7 linked regions of the Homo sapiens genome follow. The protein of the gene in region 6 purifies or fractionates together with the protein of the main gene of each other region. This does not show direct contact. Each region holds a gene or a part of one and is shown on either strand. Other genes may lie near its edges. The genes, in order: STARD7, DDAH1, BAZ1B, ALDH1L1, YME1L1, APOOL and CARD19.

Evidence for each region.
Region 1: the proteins of APOOL (region 6) and STARD7 purify together in Homo sapiens (affinity purification with mass spectrometry; one large-scale study listed by BioGRID and IntAct). This does not show direct contact.
Region 2: the proteins of APOOL (region 6) and DDAH1 purify together in Homo sapiens (affinity purification with mass spectrometry; one large-scale study listed by BioGRID and IntAct). This does not show direct contact.
Region 3: the proteins of APOOL (region 6) and BAZ1B purify together in Homo sapiens (affinity purification with mass spectrometry; one large-scale study listed by BioGRID and IntAct). This does not show direct contact.
Region 4: the proteins of APOOL (region 6) and ALDH1L1 purify together in Homo sapiens (co-immunoprecipitation; one large-scale study listed by IntAct). This does not show direct contact.
Region 5: the proteins of APOOL (region 6) and YME1L1 purify together in Homo sapiens (affinity purification with mass spectrometry; one large-scale study listed by BioGRID and IntAct). This does not show direct contact.
Region 7: the proteins of APOOL (region 6) and CARD19 purify together in Homo sapiens (affinity purification with mass spectrometry; one large-scale study listed by BioGRID and IntAct). This does not show direct contact.

The regions. Positions count from the first base shown.
Region 1 is NC_000002.12:96,188,328-96,191,827, reverse strand, and holds part of STARD7 (stAR-related lipid transfer protein 7, mitochondrial isoform 1 precursor), read left to right. Parts: intron 1-3,500. UniProt on the Homo sapiens protein: May play a protective role in mucosal tissues by preventing exaggerated allergic responses.
Region 2 is NC_000001.11:85,325,660-85,329,159, reverse strand, and holds part of DDAH1 (N(G),N(G)-dimethylarginine dimethylaminohydrolase 1), read left to right. Parts: intron 1-3,500. UniProt on the Homo sapiens protein: Hydrolyzes N(G),N(G)-dimethyl-L-arginine (ADMA) and N(G)-monomethyl-L-arginine (MMA) which act as inhibitors of NOS. Has therefore a role in the regulation of nitric oxide generation.
Region 3 is NC_000007.14:73,477,294-73,480,793, forward strand, and holds part of BAZ1B (tyrosine-protein kinase BAZ1B), read right to left. Parts: intron 1,277-3,500; coding exon 1-1,276. UniProt on the Homo sapiens protein: Atypical tyrosine-protein kinase that plays a central role in chromatin remodeling and acts as a transcription regulator. Involved in DNA damage response by phosphorylating 'Tyr-142' of histone H2AX (H2AXY142ph).
Region 4 is NC_000003.12:126,170,587-126,174,086, forward strand, and holds part of ALDH1L1 (cytosolic 10-formyltetrahydrofolate dehydrogenase), read right to left. Parts: intron 1-3,500. UniProt on the Homo sapiens protein: Cytosolic 10-formyltetrahydrofolate dehydrogenase that catalyzes the NADP(+)-dependent conversion of 10-formyltetrahydrofolate to tetrahydrofolate and carbon dioxide.
Region 5 is NC_000010.11:27,133,885-27,137,384, reverse strand, and holds part of YME1L1 (ATP-dependent zinc metalloprotease YME1L1), read left to right. Parts: intron 1-999; coding exon 1,000-1,109; intron 1,110-2,403; coding exon 2,404-2,554; intron 2,555-3,262; coding exon 3,263-3,346; intron 3,347-3,500. UniProt on the Homo sapiens protein: ATP-dependent metalloprotease that catalyzes the degradation of folded and unfolded proteins with a suitable degron sequence in the mitochondrial intermembrane region.
Region 6 is NC_000023.11:85,090,877-85,093,815, forward strand, and holds the end of APOOL (MICOS complex subunit MIC27 precursor), read left to right. Parts: 3' UTR 1-1,514; coding exon of another isoform or gene 1,515-1,685; 3' UTR 1,686-2,308; coding exon of another isoform or gene 2,309-2,349; 3' UTR 2,350-2,439; downstream 2,440-2,939. Other genes in the region: SATL1 (spermidine/spermine N(1)-acetyltransferase-like protein 1), read right to left, coding at 1,515-1,685, 2,309-2,349. UniProt on the Homo sapiens protein: Component of the MICOS complex, a large protein complex of the mitochondrial inner membrane that plays crucial roles in the maintenance of crista junctions, inner membrane architecture, and formation of contact sites to the outer membrane.
Region 7 is NC_000009.12:93,106,217-93,109,716, forward strand, and holds part of CARD19 (caspase recruitment domain-containing protein 19), read left to right. Parts: intron 1-1,457; coding exon 1,458-1,600; coding exon of another isoform or gene 1,601-1,611; intron 1,612-2,774; exon of another isoform or gene 2,775-2,876; intron 2,877-3,500. UniProt on the Homo sapiens protein: Plays a role in inhibiting the effects of BCL10-induced activation of NF-kappa-B. May inhibit the phosphorylation of BCL10 in a CARD-dependent manner.

The sequences.
Region 1 (3,500 bases), on a different chromosome or scaffold from region 6:
CTGGTTTTAGTTCCACTTCACCTTATAATGGCTTTGTTTCTCCCTATTGCTTGTGTTCGATTTAGGGCTATATGGACAGTGTTCTTTAGTGTAGTTTTCTTATTCTCATCAAGTTGTTTTATTTATACCACCTCAAGGACTTGAGTTGGTCCTTGTAAAAAAAAACAAAAAAAAAAGTACACTGGATAGAGAGGAAAGCAGGCAGGGCACTAGGGTTAGAAGACATGATTCAAGCAAAGACAAAGATAGGAATGAGCCAGGTATGCACTGAGAGACTCACATGCTTAGAGAGGAAAGTAGAGGTTAGGGAGAAGTGATAAATTGCATTGACTGTGTACAGAGGGTACTCGAAAACCATGTAGCTGAGTTTGGATTTGCCAAATGGGAATTAGATCTTTGAGCCAAGGTAGGGGGTTTTTATCATGGAAAATTTGAAATAGATACAAAAGATACAGAAGTAGAAGAGTATAATGAACCCCCTGTATCCATCCCCAGCTCCAGTTATCAACTTATGGCCAAAATTGTTTTATCTATACCCTTTCCCATTTCCTTTCTCACTCCCCTGATTATTTTGAAGCAAATTCTAGCTTTACTGTAGGAGAACCCAGTTCTTCTATTATATATTTCAGTATTTATCTCAAATAAGGATTTTGGGTTTTTTTGGAAACAGGGTCTCCCACTGTTACCCAGGCTAGTGTGCAGTGGTACAATCACAACTCACTGCAGCCTTGACTTCCTGGGCTCAGGTGATCCTCCTGCCTCAGCCTCCTGAGGAGCTGGGATTATAGGCGTGTGCCAACATGTCAGGCTAATTTTTTGTATTTTTTGTAGAGATGGGGTCTCACCATGCTGCGCAGGCTGGTCTCAAACTCCTGGACTCAAGCAATCCTCCCACCTCAGCCTCCCAAAATGCTGGGATTAGAGGCGTGAGCCACTGTGCCCAGCCCAAGTAAGAAATTTGTAAAACAGCTCTGGGCCAGGCAGCATGGAGAGACCCGGTCTCTACAAAAAATAAAAATTAGCCAGGCATGGTGATATGTGCCTGTAGTCCCAGCTGCTTGGGAAGCTGAGGTTGGGAGAATCACTTGAGTCCAGGAGGTCAAGGCTGCATTAAGCCGTGTTTGTGCCACTGCATGCCAGCCTGGGCAACAGTTTGAGACCCTTCTCAAAAAAAAAATAAAAAATAAAAAAGCCAGGCGCAGTGGCTCACGCCTGTAATCCCAGCACTTTGGGAGGCCGAGGCATGTAGATAACTTGAGGTCAGGATTTTGAGACCAGCCTGGCCAACATGGTGAAACCCTGTCTCTACTAAAAGTACAAAAATTATCCAGGCATTGTGGCACGTGTCTGTAATCCCAGCCACTTGGGAGGCTGAGGCAGGAGAGAATGGCTTGAACCTGGGAGGCAGAGGTTGCAGTGAGCCAAGATCGTGCCGCTGCACCCCAGCGTGGGCGACACAGTGAGACTCGTCTCAAAAAAAAAAAAAAAAAAAGACACAGACTTAAATGTACTTAGTTTTTAAATATATTATCCTTATTGATGCTCAAATTGATTCCAGTTTTGGTCATTGGGAGTCTTCTTGTTGGCTCAAGCCCCTTTGACATGACCCCAGAAGCTGTCTTGCTTTCTGGTGTTACAAGATGTTGTAGGTTCATCTTGTATATTTTTAGTTTTACACCTGGAAATTAACATTTCTTTAGGGAGTCCTGGTTCCTTTTAGTGGAAAATGGCATTTAAATACCACAATTTGGCTGCTAAGAATATTCATAGCTATTGGGTCGTTTATTGTTTGTAGGCCTTTTCAGAAGACAGAACCAAGTAATACATTTTACTGGTATGTTTATTTTTAAGATAAAATAAATCCTAAGTATATACTAATACTTTTAATTCAAATTCAGGACTATGGAGTTTTTATTTCTATCTTCTATCTTTTGTCTTTCCCTGTACTGTAGAACTCAATTCCCAGGAACCCTAACACAACTACTAATTTGTTGAAATACACAGCCTCAGAATAACAATACAGTAAGATCACCAATAATACGAAGAATAAAATTTTGTGGTCTTTTTGTCTTCAGGATGTGCATACTGTGTACAAAATATTGATTTTTTTTTTTTTTTTTTGGAGACGGAGTCTCGTTCTGTTGTGCAGGCTGGAGTGCAGTGGTGCGATCTTGGCTCACTTGCAACCTCCACCTGCCAGGTTCAAGCAATTCTCCTGCTTCAGCCTCCCAAGTAGCTGGGATTACAGATGTGCACCACCACGCCTAGCTAATTTTTGTATTTTTATTAGAGACAGGGCTTCACCATGTTGGCCAGGCTGGTCTCGAACTCCTGACTTCAAGTGATCCGCCCGCCTCGGCCTTTCTGAGTGCTGGGATTACAGGCATGAGCCACCGTGCCCAGCCCCCAGCTAAGATTTATGACAGTGTCAGAGTAAAGATATGCAGCTGGATCATAAGAGAAAAAGGCACAGGAGGAGTCTGGAGGAGTCCATGTGAAGCTTCCTTCCCCAGCAATGAAATGTAGCAATATGTGTGCAATGTTTCTGTTTAGGAAGGCCATTAGAAATTTAACACTCTGGCTGAGCACGGTAGCTCATGCCTGTAATCGCAGCACTTTGGGAGGCTGAGGCAGGAGGATCTCTTTAGCCAAGGAGTTTGAGATCAGCCTGGGCAACACAGGGAAGACCCAGTCTCTGCAAAAAATAAAAAATTAGTTGTGGTGGTAGTGCATGCCTGTAGTCCCTGCTACACAGGAGGTTGAGGTGGGATGACTGCTTGAGCCCAGGAGGTGGAGGCTGTACTGAGTCGAGATTGCATCACTGCACTCCAGACTGTGCAACAGAGTGAGACCTTGTCTCAAAAAAAAGAAAAAAAAAACACCCAAAGTGTTTTTTTTGTTTTTTTGTTTTTGTTTGTTTTGTTTTGTTTTTCTGAGATGAGTTTCGCTCTTGTTGCCCAGGCTGGAGTGCGATGGCGTGATCTTGGCTCACTGCAACCTCCGCCTCCCGGGTTCAAGCAGTTCTCTTGCCTCAGCCTCCCGAGTAGCTGGGATTACTGGTGTGTGCCACCACACCTGGCTAGTTTTTTTTTTTCTTTGTATTTTCAGTAGAGACAGGGTTTTGCCATGTTGGCCAGGGTGGTCTCAAACTCCTGACCTCAGGTGATCCATCTGCCTCAGCCTCCCAAAGTGCTGAGATTACAGACGTGAGCCACCACACCCAGCCCAAAGTGTTTTTTAAAGACGGAGTCTTGGCTGGGTGCAGTGGCACACGCTTGTAATCCCAGCACTTTGGGAGGCCAAGGTGGGTGGATCACTTGAGGTCGGGAGTTCGAGACCAGCCTGACCAAGATGGAGAAGCCCCGTTTCTACTGAAAATACAAAATTAGCTGGGCATGGTGGTGCATGCCTGTAATCTCAGCTACTGGGGAGGCTGAGGCAGGAGAATCACTTGAACTCAGGAGGTGGAGGTTGTGGTGAGCCGAGATTGTGCCATTGCC
Region 2 (3,500 bases), on a different chromosome or scaffold from region 6:
GGAATGTATGACATTCCATGCTTTTGCTTTGTAGTCACCTCCGGACATGCATGAGTCACACTGAGAGGTGGGGAATTTGCCCAGACCGCTAGATCCAGTGAATAAAGTCAGGCCTAAGAGATGTAGTCTTGCCATGTTTCTTTCTCTTTCAATTCATCTGGTACTAAGAGACATGGGTGATTTATTTATCTGTGGGTAAAGAGTACAATGAAGCTTCTGCAGATCACAAATTAAAATGGAAAGCCAACTGGCAGTTATCTGGTGATTATGAGTGGTGGGAGCACTTAGCCTGAATGTGTGGGCCAAAATATGCCACACACAGTTTTCCCAATTGCTTAGAAAAGTAAGTCAATGTGAGTAATAGATTTTCTAGATTTTGTTTTGTTTGTGTCTAGGTTGACCAGGTAGCAGTGGTTGTGTATACATGTTCTAAGGATCTCTCTGAGGTCCTCAAACCACTGGGGTCCTACTTAGTAAACCTCTGGCTCAGAGAACTGCCTCCCCAGTTGTCTGGAAGAAATTCTGAACTTCTTGGGTAAACTAGGTCCAATTCATGTGACAGGATGACCGTCCAGTTCTGACTGCAAACATGAGCAGACTGGCCATCTTGGTCCACCCTCAACAGCACATAATAAACAGAGATTTAGACATAGTGGAATCCCATTCCCTGCACCTGGAAAAAAGCACGTTTGTGAGACTGACCAAAAGCTATTGTCTAGAAGTTTCACAAATCCTAACTGCCACCTTGCATATCGAGGCAGCCCCACTCTACTATGAAGAAGTCAATCTGCCCATTGGGTTTATGGACTATTTTACTAAATTGGGGTCACAACCTGACAGAGGCTTATGTGTTCGGTTTGATATACACAAAAGTTTTTCTTTTCTTTCTTTCTGTGAATGCCCTTAGGTGCCACATACTCTGCAGGTAATTCCAGATCCAACCCCCTGTTGTCTTACTTTGTCATCCAGAGTCATTTGAGTTAGGACCACAGAGTATAGTGCCCTTCTGTATGGCTTTGAAAAACAGACAAACCTTGGCCTTGTTGATTTTAGCCATGTTTTTTCACATTAAAAATAATGAGTTGTATTTCTGTTTCTGGACATAGACCATACCTTGTTTCTCTGAGGGAATTCAATTGTTTACCCATGTGATTGACCACACAGTTCATCACAGTGCCCTCCTGAGGTTCTCTGTAGCGTTTAAAAAGGTGAAAGGAATGAAGAAATGAACCAGTTAGTGCAAACATATTTTGGTCACCTGCTATATGTCAAGTGACTTGCAAGAAACAAAGAGGGAAGTGAACCGACTTTTATTACACATTTAATATCTGCTAGAAGCTTGTGCTAAGCATTTTATGTACATTATCTGTTTTGGGGTTTTTTTTAAATAATCTTCAGAGTTACCCTGTGGAGGATAGGTATAGCATTCCCATCCCATTTTACTGCTGAGGGAATTGAGGCTCACAGGGCATATGTGACTTTCCCAAAGTCACACAATTAGTGTGTGGCTGAGCAAGGCTTCAGACCCAGACCTTTCTGACTCTGAAGCCCATGCTCTGTCCACCTCATTATGCCTGGACCTGCATTCAAGGAGGTAGCAGTCTGGTTGAAGAGAGCAAAACTGCACAAAAACTCATAGTAAAATTTGTCCTTATTCCAAAAACTTTGGGAACTTTGTAGCAATTATCTCTCTAGGGGATCTAGGTAGAAGGGATGCTAAGCCTGCAACACTACTAGATTACATGTTAACGTAGGCCTTAGAAAGAAGGAAGCTGAAGAAGTAATTGTGAGAATATGGTAGGTCTAGTCTTTTATGGTTTTTAAGACTAAGGATTAGACTCCAAGACAGATTATCTGTGGCTCAGGCTGGAGTGCAGTGGCACTATCTCGGCTGGTGGCAACCTCTATGATCTTCCCACCTCAGCCTCCTGAGGAGGTGACTACAGGTGTGTGCCACCACACCCAGCTAATTTTTTTGTAGAGACAGGGTTTCGCCATGTTGCCCAGGCTGGTCTCAAACTCCCGGGCTCAGGCGGTCTTCATTTGTTCCCTTGCACACAATAATAAATGGAAGCTGCTATTATTGTGTTTTGGAAGCAGCCAAAAAGAAAATCTGCATAAGAAGAACTAAATTGCAATTCGTAACAAAAGAGCTACTTGGGTCTGTTTTTTTATTCTCTCAAGCGTCTTCATATTATTTCTGGGCATATCCATTTTATAAAGAGGGCTAAATTGAATATGTTGTTAATTTTCTTAGAAAAGTTAATCTTTAGGAGTGTCTTTAACTTCTTAATTGCCCACATGTTGGATTAGATCTAAGGTTTCTAATCAGGGCTGTAAAGAAAGACCCACTCCATAGGTGAGCCCCTCTATGGGCCTATCCCTTCAAGAACAATTTAAATTCAAAAGTGCAAGAGAGATGTCCAGTTAAGTCCTTTACCTATACCAGACGGTAGCAGGTCATAACAGGATTACATACAAGAAAAGAATTAATGGTACTGCCAGAGAATGAATAATAAGTATCAAGTGAATGTGAAAAAGTAGGTGTTATGTAGTTTGTAGGAGGTAGTTTCCTGCTGCAGAAGTTGAGAAAGAGCAAAGTGAGATGATTAAGAAACGTTTTGAGTTGCACAGATCTGGGTTTGAATCTACCTATGTGACCTAAAGCAAGTTATTTGACCTCTCTCAGTGCAGTTTCTTCATCTGTAAAATAGAAGTTTGAGATTAGATAATAAATGTAAAATGTTTGGCATGGTGCCCTGCTAGTTCTTATTGTAATATAATTATCTATTTTTCTGTCAGTTTCCTCCACTAAACTGTAATCTTGGAAAACTGGGTCTGTGACCTGTTCATCTGTATGTCTCAGCCTTTCATACAGTGCATAAGCTCATCCCCATTCCTGATGTTTCATTCCATGTGAAGGGTATTCCATTATGGGATTGCTCTTGGCCTCTCTCCACCCTTGACATATTCCACACTAGAAGTGAATGATTTACCTGACTGGTGAGTCAGGAAGGGCTTACTATGTGCCACTCTTAGGAATGAATTTTCTACAGGAAGCATGCTGTCTCTCTTCTGCTTTTCATACCATAAATCTTACTATCCAGTGCCCCCATGACTGAGTGGGCATGTCTGCCTAGTAATATGAAGCACATTTCCATACAAACACTGAAAAGTAAAAGTAAATGGGACCATAAAGGTAGATTAGAACCAGATTGTGGAAAAGATCATGTTATACCTTCCTAGCATGATATTTCAGCAGATTCCTTAAAACTGTATGGATATTGATAAAGAGTAGAAAGAGTCTACATGACTAAACCCCAAATAATATTTGTTTTTGTGGGTTTTTAATTTGGATATTCTTGTTGTTAGGGGGAGGAGTGTTGTTTTTTGATAGTTTTGATTATGTTGAGGAGGTAAGGATGAGGTATCAATATTTTAAATTTTGTGCAGAGTTCATTTTTGTGTTGTTTTTAAAGTTATTTTATGCTAGGATACTA
Region 3 (3,500 bases), on a different chromosome or scaffold from region 6:
CATTATCCTCAAATGCAGCTGAATCTTTATTGTCATCTGTGTCTGAGCCCTCGCTTTCCTCCTGAACATCAGATCTGCGCAAGCAGAGCCGCACCAGCTCTGAAACAGAATGCAGAGTCAAGGGGATTTCCGACAGCTTCATTCCCAATTCACCATAGTCTTCTGCTATCTCATCTTGTAGGAGGGTCTGTAAGAGGATGACCAACACCCTGTTAAGGTATAAAAAGCCACCCTTATCTGCACTCAAGGCTTCCATAAGGGACACAGCAGTAATAGGATACTGAGCATCTGGTAAAAGTAGCCCAGAATAACAGCTCAAGAATTCCACCACCATGGCCACATCCCCAAACAGCGTGTTGGGCAGCCCTTCAGGGGTATCCACCAATCTGAATGCTGGAAGGTTTTTGCCAGTTAACTCTTGGTCCTCATACCGCTTCTGTTTTTCTAATCTCTCAAGCATTTCTTTCTCTCTTCGTTCTTTGGCTTTTTCCTTCAACTTCTTTTTCAGCTCCTCCCGTTTCTTTTTCAAATATTCTTTCCGTTGTTCTTCAGACATAGAAGCCCACCTCTTTTTGTGCTCTAGAAGTTCATAGCGTTTTTGAACAAGACTTCGCAATTCTTCTGGGAGACGAGCTCTATCTTCACTAGAGAGAAGACGAGCTGTTTTGGAGATAACACAGGACAGGGCGCTCCTCTTGTCCTCCCTGTCTTTGTTTTCTTTGTAGTATGCAATGAGGTGTAGGGCTGCAGGAGGCAGATGTTTATGAGGTTTACTAGAGGTCCTAGGTGTACCCCCAGAATTCCGTGGGGCTCGTGTCATCTTCTGCGTGCCTTTGGCCATATCCAACAAAGTCATCTGCTTCATTTTGGTTTTAGGAGTCTTCAGTCCTTTTTTGGGAGATTTGGAATTCCCTGTGGATTTCTGTCCATTCAGGATGCCTTTGCTTCTGCCCTTTGCCTTCAAAGGCTTGTCACTGTGCTTCCCTGGTTTCTTGGCAGGTGGGCCTTTTTTAGGAATGTGAAAGTTAGTGTGCAGCTTATTGGGCGACATCATCTTCATCATTTCTTCTAGATGTTCTTCAGGAGATTTGGAATTCTTTGAGTTCTTCACTTTGAGTGGCGAGCCACTCAATGACTTCTTCAAGTGTACGTGACACCATAACTTAGGATTTAGTGGTGAACTAAGAGAAGAGTTGTCTGTCTTGGATTTCTTTGAGGGCTTCCTGTCTGGGGATCCAGTATTCTTCCTCTTAGTAGAAGGGTTGAGAGTCATATACTAGAATTTAAGAATAGGAGCAAAATTAATTTTAAAATCTAAAACTAACTTAAGCAACATTTAAGCATCTTAAAGGCCCTCTTCCCCAGCTATTCAGGTAAAGCTACATATTCATATCTCTTCATAGATACTTTGTCCCTGAAAAAACAAAGACATGAATGTTAGCTAATGTTTTTGTCATGTCAACACAAAATTCCCTTGACATCCAGACTTAATACTAGACATTTTTGCTATGTAACTAGTTCTGTTTATGTATATTAATGATTCTTAAATATTTAAACAAAATCTGTGAACCCCTCCAGCAGAAATAGTAGACAAAAACTATGCATACAATTTCAGAGAATCCATCCATGGACCCCAGATTAAGGATATCTGATCTACAAAATGGCAATATCTGAAAAGTTTAAAAAGCACTGTTCTTGAAACAAGACTGAATTTTCATCCTTTCACTGTTGGTTCCTATTCAGGGCATTTTATGCTTTTAAGTAGAAATGATACTGTTTAAAGTACTTTTGTCTTAACTCTGAGGTACATTTTCTTATAGAAGCATCAGTGAGTGTAAGAACAACATGAACACTGCTCATAGATAAAGACACCTCCTGACCTGGGCCTCAAACTCCCCTTTGTCCTCACCCAACACTTTTAAGAACTCATTCTGGCCAGGCGCAGTGGCTCACCCCTGCAATCCCAGAACTTTGGGAGGCCGAGGCAGGCAGATCACTTGAGGTCAGGAGTTGGAGACCAGCCTGGCCAACATGGTGAAACCCCGTCTCTACTAAAAATGCAAAAATTAGCCAGGCATGGTGGCACATGCCTGTCACCCCAGCTACTCGGGAGGCTGAGGCTCGAAATTGCTTGAACCCGGGAGGAGGAGGGTGCAGTGAGCCAGGATCACACCACTGCACTCCAGCCTGGAGGACAGAGCAAGACCCCCGTCTCAAAAAAAAAAAAAAAAAAAGAACTCATTCCCACAACTAATTTCACACCATCCTCTCTTTGAACATACCCTCTTATGTTCCAAATCCACTCCCTCCAGTCCCACAACTCTACAATCCTTCAATCTCACCAGAACCTTAAATCCATTAATTCTATTACATTTTCACCATCCTAACCCCCATGTCTTGCTTTACCCAGATTAAATTTTAGTCAATCATGATAATTAATCTCACATAAACCTATAGTTCCCTTGTCTCTCTTATTCTATTGTATCTACTTGGAAAAACCATAACCCTGATTAACTCACTCTATTTACTCCTGCCCTGCATATGTTCAGCTGAAACACGGCTAAAATAAAAGATAAATAAAAGTGGGTGGTCTCAGCTGGGTGTGGAGGCTCACACCTGTAATCCCAGCACTTTCGGAGGCCAAGGCGGGCTGATCACAAGGTCAGGAGATCGAGACCATCCTGGCTAACACGGTGAAACCCAGTCTCTACTAAAAATCAAAAAAATTAGCCAGGCATGGTGGCGGGTGCCTGTAGTCCCAGCTACTTGGGAGACTGAGGCGTGAACCCGCAAGGTGGAGCTTGCAGTGAGCCGAGATCACGCCACTGCACTCCAGCTTGGGCGATGGAGCAAGACTCTGCCTCAAAAAAAAAAAAAAAAAGTGAGTGGTCTCACTTTAAATTCATTGCCAGGCACCTCAAACGGGTCCTCCATATCACCTAGCAAACACAGTATGTTCCTTTAGTCCACTCATGTTCCCACTCTCCTGATACACATCTCATCTCCTCATACCTCCCATGCCTCATCTCCATCATATACAATCAGTTAACAGGTTACAGTCCGGTCCATTTGTCATGATACCACTGCTTCTCTTTTTAAATGTGTATTGAAAAAAAGAAAAACCAAACTCTTTGAGTGGAATGCTTTAAAAAAGATAATTACAAAGAAAAATGCCTGGTAGCTAAAATGCAAACTAATTGAAATAACCAAGTCAAGTAATCCAAAATACAGCCCATTTCAGAAGAAAACTGTTGCTTTATGTGATTAGGGAAAAGACTAGATCAACTCTAGAATACTTGATTTTTATTACCAAAATCAGCTAAGTACATCAATGGCACTCACAGATATGAACATCCAGTTTTTCAACAGAAGGGACTAACCAGAAAAGAGCAACATGTAAAGAAGAAGTCTAAAGACAAGTAGGTTAGGCTAGTTTGAGATGAGACTACAGGCAAGAAAACAGCTAAGGATTACTGAATAACGAAATTATGAGCCCCTTA
Region 4 (3,500 bases), on a different chromosome or scaffold from region 6:
CTACAAATGGTGTTGATCCTACAGTCAATCTAAGACCAAAAAACTCTCCACCCCCGCATCAGCAGGAAGTAGCTAGAAAGAACATGTCCCCTCTTGTCCTTTTATAACCATAGGGTCTGGAATGATAGAGCAGGAGTACTGTCATCTCAGACAAACACCGCCACTTTAAATTCCAGCTCCCTTTCTAGCCTCATGCATTTCAAGGAAATCACTTCTCTTCTAACTACAAGCAGCCAGAAAGAGCAGACAGTAAAACACGGATAAGACAGCTGGGACACAAAGGGAGGTGGGGGGAAAGTATCTTGGGTAACTGCCAAACTTCACCCTCATACGATGGGCCCCAGTAAAACAGTGGGCCTTAATAATAAGGAACAAGCACATTCCCTTTCCTTCAGGGGCACTAAGACAGGAAAGCTAAAAGCAGACTCTTGGCTGGGCGCGGTGGCTCATGCCTGTAATCCCAGCACTTTGGGAGGCCGAGGCGGGCGGATCACGAGGTAAGGAGATCAAGACCATCCTGGCTAACACGGTGAAACCCCGTCTCTACTAAAACTACAAAAAATTAGCCAGGCGTGGTGGCGCATGCCTGTAGTCCCATCTACTCAGGAGGCTGAGGCAGGAAAATCGCTTGAACCTGGGAAGCAGAGGTTGCAGTGAGCCGAGATGGCGCCACTGCACTCCGGCCTAGCGACAGAGCGAGACTCTGTCTCAATAAATAAGTAAAAACAGACTCAGGGACTATACCTGCAGCTGCAGGAAAAATGTATGAAAACAGGCACACAACTCTCCCTCCCAGATAAGCACAACAAAGAGACACAGAAGCAGTCCAAGCCTCTGATAAACTCTCCCATCCTGAATCCTTAAAAACTCAGTCTGTAAGAGAGTGTGCCTCTGACCTAACTTGGCCAGAAGGCTCCTTTCAGGTTGATTTTCTCTAAAATAAATGTCTTAACTGGCAAGCCAGCTTTTGTATTTCTTTCCTCTTTCTTTAATTCTTACAGTTCTCACAGTAAGGATTGGAGAAAAATCCCCTTCTGGTTTTGGCAGGAGGCAAGGAAAGCAGTCATTTTTTTCTCAACATATCTACCCTCATAGAAACTATTATACCAGAGCCTAAGTGAATGGACACCCAGGGCCTAACTAACCTAAGTGATGAGGAAAAACCCAAATCCAGCCCCTCTAGCCTTTCTCATCACCTAAAAGGGGTAGGACTGAGAAACACTTGTGAAGGTCACAGCCCAGGGGTGCAGGCTCACTGAAACACTAAGACCTAATTGTAGGACTGTAAAACACTTCCCCCCACCAAAACACCTTGCTACTACATCCACAGGGCTCCAGTATAGTAACAAGGGGATTACGGATAAGAGAACTGCAAGCCAGAGCCTATTTAAGGAGTTTCTACAAAAACCCAAAGACAACAGGGTAGACAAAAACAAGAAGATGAAGAGAGAAAATTATATCCTCTGATACCCACAGCTATAGCAAATAGTAAACACATTCTAACTCCTAGACAGGTAAATATCAAACCTCACACTAAAAGCCTATCTACCTCAGTACCTTTTACCCAATACATTATATCTGATTTTCTGCAAAACAATTACAAGATATATAAAAGACAAAAACACAGTTTGCAAAGATGAAACAAGCACCTAAACCACAATCAGATATGGAAGCAATGTTGGAATTTTCAGATGGAAAATTTAAAACAATGATAATTAAAATGCTAAGAGCTCTAATGGAAAAATGTGGAGAACATATAAGAACAAATTGGTCATGTAAGCAGAGAGATGGAAATTAAGAAAAAAATCAAAAAAAGTCTAGAAATAAAAACCCTGTGATAAATGCAAAGAATGTCTTTAATAGGTTTATCAATAGACTGGATACAGTTGAGGAAATAATCAATGAGATGGATGAAATATCAACAAACACTTCCCAAACTGAAATGCAAAGGGAAATATAGAATAAAAAAGACAAAACAGAATATCCAAGAATGGTGGGACAATTGCCATAGGTGTAAATCCTTGTAATAGGGATATCAGATGGAATAAAAAGAAAGAAAGGAATAGTAAAAATGTTTGAAGTGATAATGACTGATAATTTTCCAAAATTAAAGACAGATACCAAACCAAGATCCAAGCAGCTCAGAGGAAACCAAATAGGATAAAGATCACCCCCCACCCCCCAAAAAATCTATACTTAGGCATATCATATTCAAACTGCAAAAAATAAAAGACACAGAGATAATCTTCAGTGAAGCCAGGGAGAGGCAGGGCAGGACACCTTACCTATAGAGGGAGAGAGATGAGGATTACATCAAACGTCTCTTCATAAACCATGCAATCAGGAATAGAATAGAAAGAATTATTTAAAGAACTGAAAACATTCCATCAACTTAGAACTAACTAGATTCCATCTGTATGCAGTAAAATTGTCCTTCAAAAGTGGAGGAGAAAGACTTCTCAAACAAAAATTGAAGGAATTTGTCACCAGTAAACTGCCTTACAAGATATGTTAAAAGAAGTAATTCAGAAAAAAAGGAAAATTAAACAAGTCAGAAACTCAACATACAAAAGAGTATTAGAAATAAATGTGAAATAATTTTTTTTCTTATTCTTAATCTGAGAGATAACAATTTGTTCAAAATAATAATTGCAACAATGTATTCAGTGATTGTAGCTTATGGATAAGTGAAATGAATGATAGCAGTAATAATAAGGCATGGGAGGGAGGAATCAAGAATACTCTGCAATAAGGCCCTTACACTACCCATAAAGTTGTATAGTGTTATTCAAAAGCAGACTTAAATTAGATTTAAGTGTATATTGCAAACTGTAGGTCAACCACTAAAAAAGCAACAACAAAAAAGTAAAACTGATATGCTAAGAGAGAAAAGAAAATGGAATCATATAAAATGCTCAGTTAAGATCAGAAAAGGCAGAAAAAAGTGTGGAAGAAAAAAGAAACAAAGGGCAAATAGAAAACAGTAATAAATATGGTAAATATTAATCCAACTATATCAAAAAATCACTTCAAATATCAATGGTGTAAATATACCAATTAAAACATGTGACTATCTAGAGTGAATAAAGAATCGTGACCTAACTATATGTTGTCTACAACAAACCCATTTCAACATAAAAACCAGATAGGTTACAAATAAAGGGATGGAGAAAGATATACCGTGCTACCACTAATCAAAAGAAATATGGAGTAGTTCTATTAACTTCAGATAAAGCAGACTTCAGAGAAAGGAAAATTATTAGGAATAAAGAGAAGCACTACATAATGGTAAAGGAGTCAATTATCCCAGCAGACATAATACTCCTTAATATGTATGTGCCTAACAACAGTGCTAAAATGTGTAAAGCAAAAACTGACAGAATTTTAAGGAGAAATAGATGAATCCACTATTATTACAGTTGGAGACATCAACACCTCTCTGTCAGTCCCCACTAACGTTTTTTTTGGGGGGGCGGAGTTTCACTCTTGTTGCCCAGGCT
Region 5 (3,500 bases), on a different chromosome or scaffold from region 6:
AGGGAAATGGTTGAATGAATTGCACTGTGATAAATTGGAAAAGTGTAAACAGCCATTAAACTGAATGCACTGTTCTGTTCTGAAAAATATGCACGAAAAATGAAAATTGCAAAAAATTAGGTACTATTTCTAGAGTAGTTTTTATAGAAAGAGCACCTGTGTGCATGCATACAAGGGTAGTCAGAATTGTTAACAGGTTATACTTCTGGGAAGTGGGATTGGGGCTTGAGAAATTAGAAGACACTAATTTGATACACTTACCCTTTTTTCAAAAACATTATGTAATTACCAAAAACATGTAAAAATCAGTTGTGTAGATTCAATCTATTTTAATTACTTGGTTGGGTTTTTTTTTTTTTTTGAAATCACAGTTTATCAGAGTTGATACTCAGTTTTTTAAATTATATTGTATAACCCTCTGACTTCTCTATTTACCTTTATCCCCTATCAACATAAAAAATAGGCCAGGCGCGGTGGCTCACGCCTATAATCCCAGCACTGTGGGAGGCCAAGGCAGGTGGATCACCTGAGGTTAGGAGGCTGAGGCAGGATAGTTGCTTGAACCCAGGAGGCGGAGGTTGCAGTGAGCAGCAATGCCTTGCACTCCAGCCTGGGCAACAAGAGTGAAACTCCATCTCAAATAAATAAATAAATAAATAAATAAATAAATAAATAAATAAATAAAGTTCCTTTTGAAAAAAGGAGGATAGAAAAAACTATAAGCTGGGCATGATAGATTTAAGTTCTCAGACCTAATCCCAGCTCTTTGGGAGGCTGAGGCAAGAGGACTGCTTGAGCCCAGGAGTTCAAGGCCAGCCTGGGCAATAAAAGGAGACCCCGTCTCTACAAAAAAGAAGGAAACAAAGGAAAACGTATTGAAGTGTCAGGCAAATTAGATAGACTAGGATATACAGGTAGGGTGTCAGACTTTAGAATCTTAGGCATTTTTCTTTTCCTGTAACAATTTATAGTGACAGTGAATGGTATTGTTTTATTTAGTTTTCATACAGTCTCGGGGTTTTAAAACTTTGAAATCAAGGACACGACGTCTCCAGTCTACCTCCGAGAGATTAGCTGAAACACAGAATATAGCGCCATCATTCGTGAAGGTAATTAGACCTTTTTATGATCCAAAAAGCAAATATTTTCAAGTTGTTAGAGTGAGGAGCTTCAATATCTGATTTCTTTTGTTGGCTGATAGATATTCTTCCTTCTTTCCACTAATAATAAGGGATTAGTAACCTGTGTAATCATTATACCTCTAACTCTTCTGGGCACCAGACTTGCCTCTCCACTTACTAGATTTTTTTCCCACAAACCTACACCTGTCGAGGTGTTCTCTGTATTAATGAGCAGCATCCACCCAAGCTAAAAACCTGGCTATCAACCTACGTTTGTCCATGTTGCCTTACCTCCCACATCCATTAACCACTAAAGTCCTGTTGATCCAACCTCCTAAATATTTCTTACATCTGTTCCACTGCCATAGATAGGCTATAACTATTTGTTGCCTAAATTACTGTAATGAATACTTGTTTAGTCTCCTTGCCTCTAGTCTTGCTGCGTTCAGTCCAGCCTCCAGACTGCCACCCATCAATCTTTCTAAAATAATGATCTAGTTATATTACTCTGCTTTATTGCTTACCTCCACCTGATACACTGGGAATTTCATCATTTGATCTCTACCTGCCATGTTTCTCTTCTCACCATTCAATATGCCCCTCTGTTTCCCTGCTCCTCTCTTGGCATTGAAGTCTTATATAAGATTGCTTACAGTTCTTGAGCACTGAAGGCTATTGATTCATGCCTCCGTCAGATTGTTCATAGTGTTTATTCCCTGTGTTTTAGATGTCCTATTCTCTGTAAGGCCTTTTCCATATTCCTGAGGTAGCATTGATTTACCACCATACATAATACTTCTAACATAATATCAAAATGATTTAAGAAACTTAGTTATTTATATATCTTTTTCCAGTAGACTGAAAACTTTAAGATCAGTGGTTTATTTATCTTTACATCTTCAGAACTTATATAAGGCCAAGTATATGAACGGTGCTTAGTAGACATTTAGTAAATTAATGAGATTTTTTCCTCTAGCAAAGATAGAGGGATATGAACATTAAGCCAATCAAACCCTAAAATAATATGTGACCTGTTTTCAGTGTAGTGTTCGTGCAGAGAATAATGCCACTTTCTTTATATTATTAATTGATTGATGCAGGAATGGGATCTAGTGTTAGTTTCCTAGTTATTGATTAATTCATTGCTGAGTCTTAATCTGTTTCTTCACATTGACAGTAAAAATTATACAGAATTTTAGTGAATTTTTTTGAGTGGTCACAATATTGTTGGGAAGTATCACTGTGTTGTTAACCAGTACTGATGTGTTGTTTGTGTATTCAGGGGTTTCTTTTGCGGGACAGAGGATCAGATGTTGAGAGTTTGGACAAACTCATGAAAACCAAAAATATACCTGAAGCTCACCAAGATGCATTTAAAACTGGTTTTGCGGAAGGTTTTCTGAAAGCTCAAGCACTCACACAAAAAACCAATGGTAAGTTGAATTGACACCATCCGTGTTTGAGAAGAGTAACTGAAAGGAAGTCATAGTCCTACATTTAAGTTTTAAGTAACTTTTCTAAGACCATCTATTGATTAAATTCCACTATATTTGTAACTTAATCTATGTAGAAATGGCGATACTGCTGATGGTTTCCCTTTCTCAAGAGAGAAAACAAATTGGAGAACAGGAAGTGTGAATGGCTTCATAAAGGTTTTTGTTTCTTTATTTTTTGTTTGTGTTTGTTTTTGAGACACGGTCTTGCTTCATTGCCTAAGCCAGAGTGCAGTGGTGCAATCATGGCTCATTGTAGCCTTAACTTTCTGGGCTCAAGTGATCCTCTCACCTCAGCCTCCTGAGTAGCTAGGATCACAGGCATGTGCCACCACGCCCAGCTAATTTTTGTGGAGATGGAATCTTGCCCTGTTGTCCAGGCTGGTCTTGAACTCCAGGGATCAAGTGATCCTCCTGCCTTGACCTCTTAAAATGCTAGGATTACAGGCATGAGCCACCATGCTTGGCCTTAAGTTTTTGATAATAGGGTACTTACAGGAAATCATAGCAGTTGTGAGAAAGAATGCCAGATTCCAAAATTGGATGTGATGAAATATGATTATTAACAATAACCTAATATTTGCATTTCATTGAGCTGTCATATTTCATAAATGTGATTTCATGTAAAGCTTTTTCTTTCTCTCCTAGATTCCCTAAGGCGAACCCGTCTGATTCTCTTCGTTCTGCTGCTATTCGGCATTTATGGACTTCTAAAAAACCCATTTTTATCTGGTAAAAGCTTTTTTTATTTGTCTAACTTATTTCTTATTCCTTTAAATACATGATTCCTTTTAATGCCTAATCTAACCCTTAAAGAAAGAACATATTAATGTTTACAGTACTAGAATTAGGCTTTCATTCCTAGTAGTGGTTAGTTTCCCAGATT
Region 6 (2,939 bases):
TCAAGCGATCCTCCCACCTCAGCCAACCAGACATGAGTGACTGTGCTCAGCCTTTTTTAAAAAAATGAAGGTATTTGGTATGGCCGGGTATGGTGGCTCACACCTATAATCCCAGCACTTTGGGAGGCCAAGGTGGGTGAATCACCTGAGGTCAGGAGTTTGAGACCAGCCTGACCAACATAGTGAAACCCTGTCTCTACTAAAAACACGCAAAAAGTGCAAAATTAGCTAGGCGTGGTGGCTCATGCCTGTAATTCCAGCTACTTGGGAGGCTGAGGCAGGAGAATCACTTGAATCCGGGAGGTGGAGGCTGCAGTGAGCCGAGATCGTGCCATTGCACTTCAGCCTGGGCACAAGAACAAAACTCAGTCTCAAAAAATAAATAATAAAAAATAAAGGTATATAATATGTCTTAGATTTGATGAAATATGAGTGTGTTTGAGATCTGATCCAAGGTTTTAAAAAATTCATTTCAAATCCTGGAGATAAATTCTGAGGAGCTTACTTATGAAAAACTAGCAAGTGATAGCTGGTATTTACAGATATGGTACTTTACACAATTTATGTAATTAATATTTTCTCACAGACAAGGTTCCTTGTGGATATCACTGAATAATTTTTGTGTAGTTTCTATGCCCATGAAGTGCCTGGTAGGTAGTAGGAACTCACACGTTCTGCTATGCTGGTTGCAGCACAGGACACAAAAGTTAGAATTATTTCAAAGGACTTATACTCTACTAGGAAAGAGAGAAACATAGAAATATAGTGTTGTATGTGGTATCTTCCCTAAGATAAGTACAACCAAAGAGCTATGGATGTTCAGAGATAGAATGTAGTACTGGGATGATGTCAAGGAGGCAGTGGTACTTAAGCTGCTCAAGGTAGGGAAGCAGTTTACTTGCTAGTTTTTCATAAGTAAGCTCTTCAGAATTTATCTCCAGTATTTGAAATGAATTTTTTTAAACCTCAGATCTGAATATATTCAAACACCCATATTTCATCAAATCTAAGGCATATCATATACCTTTAATTTAAAAAAAAATGCTGAGCAGAGTTGCTTATGTCTGGGAGGCTGAAGTGGGAGGATTGCTTGAGGCCAAAAGTTTGAGACCAGCCTGAGCAACATAGCAAGATCCTGCCTCTAAAAACAAACAAACAAAAAATGCTGCCAGTTGATCATTACATTTATCCCGACATCAGATATGTCAAATTGTGAAAAGCACCTTAATTTTGATGAAATATGATAGGTAAAAAATAGCGCAAAGCTAAGTATAAGTGACTTTTAAATTATCTGCTCTTTTGGATTATCACTACTGCTACTAGCCGTTAGAATATTGGTTTGGATAATGGAAAGTTGACTAGAGCTACAAAATCTGTTTCAAAATAAAAGATCTGCTCAAACAAGAATGTGATGATCACTTGCTGTATTGTACAACAAAGTCAAACTGCTGTTAGACTCAGGTGACAGTCAAATGTTGGAGGCTGTGTTGGGATGAGTTGTTACAAAGCCTCTTTCATTCTTCCCATGCCATGTCCAGGAGTTCTTCTCTGTTAAACCTGAAGAGATGCCAGCCCTCCTCAGAGGAAAGGTCTAAAGCCCCTCGACTAGTATAGTAGTTGATAGAAGCCTGGTTCCAAATGACGACAAGAAAGTGCATGCAGTTACATTGAGTTGTGATGGCTATCTGTTTAAAAACAAACAAGCAAATATTACTTTCATTTGAAAGTATAATCTTCGTTAACACATATATTTTATTGAAGGTCTACTCTATGCAAGACACTATGTGTGAATAATACTTCCAAATATAGTAGTTACCTTTTGAACTTTTCTATAGCTGTAAAAAGAAAAAAGTCTCACTGTTCTGAGCTTTAAAGCCCTCTTTAAAATCTCAAAACTGATTTGCAAAGCCTTTATCATACAGAAAAGGTGTACCTAAAAGAACACATGTTCTCATATGTTTCCAAAATACAAGAAGATCTTGCTTTTATAGTCTTGTAATATTCATACTGTGAGCCTGTGTTTTTGAATAAAAATGCTTTCTAATCTCCCTCCTTCTTACTTTCCCTTGATAGCAAAAAGGGTGTATAGTGTGGTTGTGGATTATATATAAATCAATTTTAATTGACTATAATTCATATACTGTATATGATCATCTGATTTGAAAATCCAGTTTAATTTGGGTAGAAATTTGAAGTATATGTTGGGGTTATGTTCAAATGGTGAGATTAATGATTTAATTTATGCCCTGTGAATATTTATTAAGAAAAGGTTAATGTATAGAATATCAATACTAATTGTAATACATACCTGACTTAGCCTCTTCAGCATTTCAGCTCCAATACCTAGGCCTTTTAAATAGACAATGCAAAGTGAAAACTGCAAATTTCACTTAACTTGTTATTTGCTTTAGTTTAAAATAAATAATATCTAAAACTCTGTATCTGTTTTTTGTATATTATTAATAGCTTCTGGAAACACAACTCGTGAATGCTTTCATATCCCTTTTTCCTAATTGGAATGACGTACCAAAGGTCATAGAAGAGTTTGGGTTTATTTTAAAGATCAGTGAAGAAGTGAGTCTCTGCCACTATTGTCTTATAACGGTATATTTCTTAGCTGTTTTTACTGAAAACCACCTAAAATGTGAAAGCATTTTTTAAAGATAAAAGTATAGCTGTGTGGCCTATACTCACACGATGGCTCACACATGTGATGGCACGATGGCTCACACCTGTAATCCCAGCACTTTGGGAGGCCAAGGCAGGAGGATCACTTGAGCCCAGGAGTTTGAGACCAGCCTGGGCAACACAGACCCTGTTTCTCCAAAAAATAAAGAATTAGCTGGGTGCTGTGGCACATGCCTGTAGCCCCAGCTACTTGGGAGGCTGAGGTGGGAGGATTGCTTGAGTGTAGGAGGTTGAGGTTACAATGAGTCGTG
Region 7 (3,500 bases), on a different chromosome or scaffold from region 6:
TCTTTTGTAGACAGCACTTAGTTGTATCATATTTTAAAAATCCACTCTGCCAATCTATGCCTTTTGATAGGAAAATTTGGCTGGGTGTGGTGGCTTACACCTGTATTCCCAGCACTTTGGGAGGCTGAGGTAGGCAGATCACCTGAGGTCAGGAGTTTGACACCAGCCTGGCCAACATGGTGAAACCCTGTCTCTACTAAAAAAAAAAAAAAAATACAAAAACCAGCTGGGTGTTGTGGCACATGCCTGTAATCCCAGGAAGAATTGCTTGAACCCAGGAGGCAGAGGTTGCAGTGAGCCGAGATTGGGCCACTGCACTCCAGCTTGGGTGACAGAGCAAGACTCTATCTCAAAAAAAAACAAAAAAAAAAAAACAAAGTTTAACCTATTTGCATTTGAAGTAATTGCTGATAAGGAATGTATTACTACTGCCATTTTGCTATTTGTTTCCTGTATGTCTTGTAGCTTTTTTGACCCTCATTTATTCTATTACTGCCTTCTTTTGTGTTTTGTTGATATTTTATAGTAACACATTTAGAGTCCCTTCTCAGTTTCTTTTGTGTTATATTCTATAAATATTTTCTTTGTGTACATGGGGAAACAGGACAAGCTGCCACAAGTATGTAGGGTGATGCACTTGTTCAGTCCCTGTGGGGGTCCTGTGCCCCATCCTCTCCATGCCCTTCCGTCATCACTCCACCGCTCAGCCTTAAACATCTGCCATTCTAAGAAACATTCTTAATGGAAAAGGTGGTAAAATGATATTTTAATGGTGATTCTGGAAAAAAAAAAGGCAAATGAAAAGCATTTCTAGCCCTCTGGGAGAACTCACTGGTTTATTGTTGGTAGAAGCTTCTTAAGGCCTTGCAGACACACTGTGTCCCATGGTGATCCCAGCACAGGCCACCCTGAGCCCTGTGTCCCTGTATCTGTGCCACTGTGAAGATCTGCAGAGCGCACATCTGGGCATTCTTGATCTCGAACTCCTGAGCTCAAGTGATCCACCCACCTCAGCCTCCCAAAATGTTGGTATTACGGGTGTGAGCCATCACAACTGGTCTGAGCCACCGTGCCTGGCCCTGGGCATTCTGAGCCACCTGTGCCACCTGTACCTTCCCCAGAACTGAGCTATTTCCTGATGGCCCTGCAGGTGGCCCATGAAAAGTAGATTCTTCGCCCCTCTGAGTTTGTTTTCTGTGATAAGCTCTGTGAAAGTGGGTTTCCACCGCAACCCCTCACTTCCATCTTCTGGAGAGGCAGGTTGGCAGGCCAGGGGCAGCTCTCAGCTGGGCAATGCGCACCACACAGGCTGGGATGGCTGTGATTCTGCAGGTTCACCCTCCTGGTGGGAACCCACCTTGGGGGTGATGCCTTCCTGTGGTCAGTGTCAGTACGAGGCTGTCGTCTCTGGTCCCCTTGGGCTGTGCTGGCTCATGACCCTGTGCTATCTGTTTTAGATCAGACCTATTGTGACCGCCTGGTGCAGGACACGCCTTTCCTGACAGGCCATGGGCGCTTGAGTGAGCAGCAGGTGGACAGGATCATCCTCCAGCTGAACCGTTACTACCCACAGATCCTTACCAACAAGGAGGCGGAAAAGGTGCTGAGGAGGTGAGGGGGGTACCCGAGACACTGCTCAGTTTCCCTTCCTTTCTGGGCTGGGAGAAGCTGGTGACCAGCCCTGGGTCATTCTCTCATGGGATGACACACTAGGTATGTCAGGATTCAGAGGTGACACATCTGGACCTGGCTACTAAGGCTGCCTGAGCTACAAACTGGCCCTTTGGGGTGAGCCCAACCAGGCTCGGAACATCAGCTCTCTGTGCCTCGGTTTCTTCATATGTCATTGGGTCTGCTGTCCCCTTCCCGAGTTGCTGGGAGGTTACAGGAGATAACATGTGACAATACATGAAGCACACAACAGTATAAGATACGGAGGGAGGCGAGAAAGAGGGCAGGAGGGAGGGGTGAGGAGGGAGGAGGCAGAGGGAGAGCCGAAGTGGGATGGGGAACAGATAATGGGCCCGGCCCACCCCAGTGCCACAGGGCTTTGCACTCTGCATCTTCCGAAGGTTCAAAGCGGGCAAACAATTGCTTCCTTTTCTCTAATTTCTATATTACTGTACGAGGCTGGAAAGCCCAGCATGTCACAGGTAGGCAGCTGAGCTTCTAGGAAGGCAGATGCTGACTCACCCCACAGCCGCGCCCCAGTCTGCCCCTCTCAGCAGTGCTGAGCGGGCTGGTCCCCTCAGAACCCCAGCCTCCCCCATGTGTGGAGTGGACACCGAGAGCCCCTGCCTGGCAGGTGTGGTGAGGACTGACTGAGCTGAGCCGGGTAAACGCCTGCCCGAGAGCCCTTGTCGCCAGATGGCCCTGCAGCCCTGTGGGCAGCCACGCTCATCACCCCATCTCACAGAGGTGGTCCGAAGGCTCAAGAGGCAGCCACTTGCCCAGGGCCACTCATTTCAGGAGTGTCAGGCCACATCTTGAGTTCATCCTATTATTTGGGAAAGTGCCCAGGGCCAGTGGCTGTCACTCTGTCACATGGCCCTGGCCTCTCAGAGCTGCAGAGCTGGGCACACCAGGGTGGCTCTGCTGGAGATGGCATTTAAGATGCAATTCCTGGGCTCTGTCTTGGGAGGTCTGTTCTGCTCCATCACCCCAGTGCCAGGTGGCCCTGAGGGGACATTGGATGAGAGAGTTAGCCACACCCTGCCGACCCTACCCACATCTGTGGCTCTGGCGCCCCCACTGAGCCACCTGTTCCTTGACAGGTGCCACGTGCAGGGCTATCCTGAGGGTTGGGGCATCTCCTGGAACAATGAGGTTGGCCCACAACAGAACAGGAGTCAACACGGGCCCTGCTACTGGCTCAGGTGCTTCTTCCGTTTTGAAGGTGGTACAGTAATTTTAAAAGTTAGGAGCTCAAATCCAAATCTCTTATTATTGCAATTGAAGTCTAATGCATGTTCACTTTTAAAAAGTTTAGAAAGTTTAAGACGTTTATACAAGAAAAAGCACATATTCCTTCCTCACAGACACCACAGCTCCTGCCACCCATCTGCCTGCCATTTTCACACTGCCATGGTTTAACTCCAGTTCCCTGTGGCCATGTAGAATGATATGCTGCCACCAGGTGGCAGCACCAGGCCACAGACTCCAGGTCCTGGAGGTCAAGGCCCAGTGGCCTGTCCACTGACCTTGAGAACCACACATTTCTCTGTCATACACATCAAAAGAGCCAATACTTCTGTCTTTTTTTTTTTTTCTTTGAGATGGAGTCTCTGTCGCCCAGGCTGGAGTGCAGTGGCATGATCTCGGCTCAGTGCAACCTCTGCCTCCCAGTTTCAAGCAATCCTCTGGCCTCAGCCTCCCAAGAAGCTGGGATTAAACATGCACCATCATGCCCAGTCAATTTTTTGTACTTTTAGTAGAGATGGGGTTTCACCGTGTTGGCCAGGCTGGTGTCAAACTCCTGACCTGGAACTCCTGATCCGCCT